Linked DNA regions of Homo sapiens. The protein of the gene in region 2 purifies or fractionates together with the protein of the main gene of each other region. This does not show direct contact. Each region holds a gene or a part of one and is shown on either strand. Other genes may lie near its edges.

Region 1 (3,500 bases), on a different chromosome or scaffold from region 2:
TTTCATTAATTACTAATCCTAAGGACAAGGGATGGCTGAGATAATTTATAATTTAGAGGCAGCTAATGCCTATTTCAGTGCAAACTGGATTGACAGTCCTCTCCTGACCTCTGGTCTGTGCTTGGAAAAGACTCTTTGTTGTGAAAGATACAAACCCAGGGCAGCCAGTGCATCTTCTGTAGAAATGCAAGAAGATCCCTGAGCTCTGCTGTCATGCCTCTCAAAGAGGAATTATCAGAAGTTGTACTTTTTCTTCTCTTTATGTGATCTTGGCTTAGAGTTTGGCTTCTATATCGGTAACATGGATTTCTCATCACCTTAGACTAAAGGATGCTGACAGGTCTTATTCAGGAGCTATTAGTGCGAAAGTGATTGTGGTTTTTAAATGGCAGAAATCACTTTCGCACTAACCTAGTATTTAAAAGACACTAAGAGAAAACATTGTCATGCCATTTCTTCTGATGCATCCTCTTCTGCATTTTTTTCCCCTGTGGTAACACTTATCCTCTTCCTAAAGTAACCCTCCAAAGTGAACAGTGACACACTGAAGGGAGAGGGCTCACCAGCAATATTGTACATAGACTGGGTCAGAAACAGATATAATACATTATTATTTTAATATATTGCTTGTTAATAGCTTTAAAAATACTACATTCTATGGTAGATTATTGGTTATATAAAAGGTAGAAATGTCATAAGTATTATAATTTCCAGTCTGTAAAACCTGTCAGTTGAGTGCTTTGAAGGTACTCAATATACTCAATAGCTAGTTACCCTAATTTAGTTTCTCCACACGGTGGAGGCTTTAACACTCTGTGCTTCTCAGGTTGCTGGGTAGTTTGATGTTTTATCTTATGATTCTTTTATGCTGTGATCCTGTACTTTGAATGGTAAGAAAAAGTTGCATTCTTTTTCACTGCTTCCTTTCTCTATTTTGTTCACACTTTTGGCATTGATTAGATAGTTGGCTTCTATTAGGGGGACTTCCACACACTCTCAAATTATTGTCTTTATTACCAAAATGTTGTTAAATATACCAAAATCTTGTTAAAATACTATTAATTAGTCATTCATTGAATTAATATTCAATGAATTAATCTAACATTAAATGAATTAATTCATTGAATATTCAATTAATATTGAATTAATATTTGGAAAACTTTAAATTTTCGTTTTGATATTAGAGGAAGTAGATTTTGACCTCTAGCTTAGGGTTAGCTGATTAAACTTATTGAGAAGGGATACATGTAATTTTAAATTATTTTAATGTGCAAGATGGAAAATAATGACTCAGAAGTTCCAAAATATGGAAAAGAATGTAGGTAAAATAATTTAGTCTGAAGTAGGATTTAAGGAAATAGTCTTAATATAGTTGAATCCAGTAATTGGTTCAATTATGCCATTTATGCCATTTTTATGTATACTTGTACTAATATATAAAGTATTTTATGATTTGTTTTATCTTAATCTGAAGAAATTTCTAACTGCTTTAGGCAAGTGTTTTTATATTTTATACTGTGATCACCTTTCAATTATTCAATTATAAGAATACTCTGAAGTTAACTGCCTTAAACATATATTCTTTGTTAAACATATATTCTTTGTTTTACTTGGTAAAATCTAAAGTATTACATGTGTTGTGCTTTTAATTTGTCTAGCTTCTACTGAAACTAAAATTGATGTGGCCAGCATCAAGGAAAAGGTTAAGAAAGCAAAGAATAAGAAACTGGGAGCTCTTACAGCTGAAGAAATTGCACTTAAGATGGAGGCAGATGAAAAGAAAAAGAAGAAAAAAAAGTAACATACCCAAAACTCCTTGACTAGAACTATCTCCTTTTGTAAAGGATTTTGAGATATCAGGCATTAGTTGCCTTATTTGTGAGAAATTTTCTGAGGGCTTTTTTTTTTTTTGGTGGTGGTGGTTGTTCATAGAAGAGTGTTCTTTATAAATTATATTATTATTGTATTTTTTGAAAAATTTATACGAGAAAGTGGTATATAAGTCTTTGTATACATTACGACCATTGTGATTATCCATTAAATCCAGTGTCTGATGCTATTGGTTAGTAATGATGTCCCAGCATTTGATGTTCCCTCTCTAATGATAACAAGTAAATATTTAGGTTTATCCCTTTTGAAAGTTTGGTTTTACTTTTAACAGTCCATGAACAGAAAATTAAGGCCTCTAAAATCAGATCCCCTAGTTACTCCTCTGTTCTGAATCTGGGGAAGTAGTAAACCAAAAAGACAGGGAAAACCAGATATTTAGAGTCGAAGCAGCATGCAAAAAATAATAATGTTTTTAACTAATGAAGGCTACTGGAGTTACTAAGAATCACCTAAAAATGTGCTACTGTACCTTGCTCATTTTGCAGATTTAGAAGCTGAAACATGGGTTAGGTTACTTACTAAAAGTCCACCTGTGGCAACCTGCAAATAATGCTTATTTATACTAAAGATGAGTTTATCTGATAGAGTTAGGAAATTTCTTCTTTTGAGTAAGAGTATTGCTATAACATATATTTTTTTCTGAAATGTTTTAAAATAGAAGTACACCTAATTGTTATTGGTTAAAAAAAAAGCCATATGTGAATGAGGTTGGTTTTTGGGTTTTTTCTTTCCTGAATTGTATTAGTCCAAAAGAACTAAATTAGGGTACTTGTGCTGTACCAAAATGGTAATTATAACAGACAGTATTAGAATTACTGAATTAACAATGAGAAAGAGAGAAGTGTATCTGTTACGTGGATATATGGGCCAGCCTGGATATACAACAGAGTAGTAACCTGTGAAACAAACATAGAATATCCTCTTAGACATTGTTCCTCATAATGCACTGACAGAATTCACATAGCTCTTAATGAAACAATTTAAGATTGATGTACGTACGTTTGACTTGGTCTCGCTGTCGGTTAACTGTAAAGTTAGGGGGAAGAAAGAAAAAAAATTAAAAGGGTAGACACAGTTGAGAGTTTTATTTTAAAAAGCTAAGTCTTATAATTATGACCATTAACTTGCTTTGGCTTTATTGCAGTGACTTTCCAAGTTTAATTATTCAAAACTTTTTGAACTGACTGAATTAACTTGGTATTTTTAAGTTGACTTTTTACATAAACTTTATAAACCTTTTATAAAAAGGAAACTATACCATTACTATAAATGGAAAATCATTTTACACATCATACCTAGCAGGTAATAAAATTTAAAAAATAAAAATTAAATATTAGAATGTGAGAAATTTATTAAAATATAGTTCTAAAAATAAGTTTCTTCCTGAGAAGAATGATACTGTTTATGATGAATCCATAGTGAAAAGACAGTGACCTCTCTTTCATCCAGTCTAGTATATCACTAAATCATCATTACGATGTTTGGCTATCAAGTCATTAATTACTGTCCTCCTTTCACTGAGCTTTATTCAAATTTTGACAATCAGAGCACTGGGAAGAAATAAATTCCACAACTGCCTTTAGCCTTCTGGATACTTTCTTTTATAAAAT
Region 2 (3,500 bases):
AATAGACAATTATCAAAAGAAGATACACAAATGGCCAACAAACATGAAAAAATGCTCAACATCACTAATGATCAGGGAAATGCAAAGCAAAACCACAATGTGATACCACCTTACTCCTGCAAGAATGGCCATAATCAAAAAATCAAAAAACAGTAGATGTTGGCAGCCAGGCACGGTTGCTCATGCCTGTAATCCCAGCACTTCCGGAGGTTGAGGTGGGCAGATCACCTGAGGTCAGGAGTTCAAGACCAGCCTGGCCAACATGGTGAAACCCCATGTCTACTAAAAATACAAAAATTAGTCGGGCATGGTGGCAGGCACCTGTAATCCCAGCTACTTAAGGAGGCTGAAGCAGGAGAATCACTTGAACCTGGGAAGCGGAGGTTGCAGTGAGCCAAGATTGTGCCACTGCACCCCAGCCTGGGCAACAGAGTGAGCCTTTGACTTAAAAAAAGAAAAAAAGCCGGGCACAGTGGCTCACACCTGTAATCCCAGCACTTTGGGAGGCCGAGATGGGCGGATCACCCGAGGTCGGGAGTTTGAGACCAGCCTGACTAACATGGAGAAACCACGTCTCTACTAAAAATACAAAATTAGCTGGGTATGGTGGCGCATGCCTGTAATCCCAGCTACTCGGGAGGCTGAGGCAGGAGAATCACTTGAACCCGGGAGGCAGAGGTTGCAGTGAGCCGAGATTGCGCCATTGCACTCCAGCCTGGGCAACAAGAGCGAAACTCCATCTCAAAAAAAAAACAATGTTGGCATGGATGTGGTGAACAAGGAACACTTCTATGTCCTGGTGGGAAAGCAAACTAGTATAGCCACTATGGAAAACAGCGTGGAGATTCCTTAAAGAACTAAAAGTAGAACTACCATTTGATCAAGCAATCCCACTACTGGGTATCTACCCAGAGGAAAAGAAGTCATTATACAAAAAAGATACTTTCACACATAATTTTATAGCAGCACAATTCACAACTGCAAAATCATGGAACCAACCCAAATGCCCATCAATCAACGAGTAGATAAAGAAACTGTGGTATATACAGGATGGAATACTATGCAGCCATAAAAAGGAATGGATTAACAGCATTTGCAGTGACCTGGATGAGACTGGAGACTATTATTCTAAGTGAGGTAACTCAGGAATGGAAAACCAAACATCGTATGTTATCACTGATATGCAGGACTAAGTTATGAGGATGCAAAAGCATAAGAATGATACAATGGACTCCGGGTACTTGGGGGGAAGAATGAAAGAGGGGCAAGGGATGAAATACTACAAATATGGTGTAGCGTATATTGCTCGGGTGATAGGTGCACCAAAATCTCACAAATCACCACTAAACTGGCACAGTGGCTCACGCCTGTAATCCCAACACTTTGGGAGGCCGAGGTGGGCAGATTACTTGAGTTCAGGAGTTCAAGACCAACCTGGCCAACGTGGTGAAACCCTGTCTCTACTAAAAATGCAAAAAGTAGCCGGGCATGGTGGCACATGCCTGTAGTTCAGCTACTTGGGAGGCTGAGGAAGGAGGATGGCTTGATCCCAGAAGGTGGAGATTGCAGTGAGCTGAGATAGCACTACTGCACTCCAGCCAGGGTGACAAAGCAAGACTCCGTCTCAAAAAACAAACAAACAAAAAAACTTGCTCATGTAACCAAATACCACTTGTACACCAATAACTTATGGAAAAATTTAAAAAAATTAAAAATAAACATCTAAACATAGAAAAGGAAAAAAAAATTTAAAATAAAAAACAGAAATGTGAAAAAAATAAATAAATCAGGTATGCTATCAGTCAAAAAATAAATAAGTAAACCCACCATTATCAATAATCATTAAACGTAAATAATCTCAGTAACTCAATTAATTTTCTTTTCTTTTTTTTTTTTTTTTTGAGATAGAGTCTCACTCTGTCACCCAGGATGGAGTGCAGTGGCACAATCTCAGCTCACTGCAACCTCCGCCCCCTGGGTTCAAGCAATTCTTGTGGCTCAGCCCCCCAAGCAGCTGGGACTACAGGCACATGCCACCACGCCTGGCTATTTTTTTGTATTTTTAGTAGAGACAGTTTCGCCATGTTGGCCAGGCTGGTTTTGAACTCCTGGCCTCAAGTGATCCACATGCCTTGGCCTCCCAAAGTGCTGGGATTACAGATGTGAGCCACCATGCCTGGCTTCAATAATTCAACTCAAAGACACGAACTGTCTGATTAAACAGCAAGACCCATTTATATGCTGCCTATAAGAAATTCACATTAAATATAAATAAGGGAAAGTAATAGTATTGAAAAACACATACCATGCTAACCCCTTAATCAATAAAGCTGGACTGGCTGCATCAATACCAAAGGACATTTTAGAACAAAAAAAAATTACTAAGGATAAAGGGGGCCATTTCATAACGATAACAAGCCAATTCATTTAGAGGATATAATAATAATCTAATATTTTAATCCATAAAACATGTATTCACATAAACTGATTGTCAGAATACATGAAACAAAAACTAATAGAACTGCAAGTAGAAAACAGTCACTCAAGAAAAAAATAAGTGGCCGGGTGTGGCGGCTCATGCTTGTAATCCCAGAACTTTGGGAGGCCGAGGCGAGCAGATCACGAGGTCAGGAAATTGAGACCATCCTGGTTAACACGGTGAAACCCTGTCTCTACTAAAAATACAAAAAATTAGCCGGGCATGGTGGTGGGCACCTGTAGTCCCAGCTACCTGGGACGCTGGGGCAGGAGAATGGTGTGAACCCAGGAGGCAGAGCTTGCAGTGAGCTGAGATCGCACCACTGCACTCCAGCCTGGGCAACAGACCGAGACTCCATCTCAAAAAAAAAAAAAAAGAAAAAAATAAGTAACACAAATATCTCTAATCTATTAAACAAAGTAAATTTGTAGTCAAAAATCTTCCTACAAAGACAAGTGCAGGCTCAGATGAATTCTACCAAAAATTTAAGTTGGGTATAAAATGTCAATCCTGTATAAATTCTTTCAGAAAACTGAACAGAATACTTCAGAAATCATTCTGAAGCTACATTACTGATTCCAACACCAAAACATTACAAGAAAACTACAACTATCCCATGAACATAAGTTCAAAAATTCTCAACAAAATTTTAGCAAATCAAATCCAACAAAATATAATTAGAATAGTATATTGTGACCAAGTTCAGTTTATCCCAGGAATGTAAGTCTAATTTCATAATTGAAAATCAATGTCATTCACCACATTGGCAGACTAAAAATGAAAAACCACCTATTTCAATATATGCAGTAAAAAAGCATTTGAAAAATATCCAACATCCAACCCTGATAAAACCTCTCAGCAAATGAGAAATCAAAGAGAACTTCCACAACGTGATAAAAAGCACCTACAAAAAACCTACAGCTAAGATCAGACTTAATGGTGAAAGACTAAATGTTTTCCCCAGAAGATCAAACACAAAGCAATAATGCCCACTTTACCACTACAATTCAAAATTCTGCTA

What was found.
Region 1: the proteins of DDX24 (region 2) and KRR1 purify together in Homo sapiens (affinity purification with mass spectrometry; 3 studies listed by BioGRID and IntAct, with this or other methods). This does not show direct contact.

Annotation. Positions count from the first base shown.
Region 1 is NC_000012.12:75,498,110-75,501,609, reverse strand, and holds part of KRR1 (KRR1 small subunit processome component homolog), read left to right. Parts: exon of another isoform or gene 1-1,658; coding exon 1,659-1,801; 3' UTR 1,802-2,631; coding exon of another isoform or gene 2,632-2,786; 3' UTR 2,787-2,889; coding exon of another isoform or gene 2,890-2,916; 3' UTR 2,917-3,500. Other genes in the region: GLIPR1 (glioma pathogenesis-related protein 1 precursor), read right to left, coding at 2,632-2,786, 2,890-2,916. UniProt on the Homo sapiens protein: Part of the small subunit (SSU) processome, first precursor of the small eukaryotic ribosomal subunit.
Region 2 is NC_000014.9:94,071,203-94,074,702, forward strand, and holds part of DDX24 (ATP-dependent RNA helicase DDX24), read right to left. Parts: intron 1-3,500. UniProt on the Homo sapiens protein: ATP-dependent RNA helicase that plays a role in various aspects of RNA metabolism including pre-mRNA splicing and is thereby involved in different biological processes such as cell cycle regulation or innate immunity.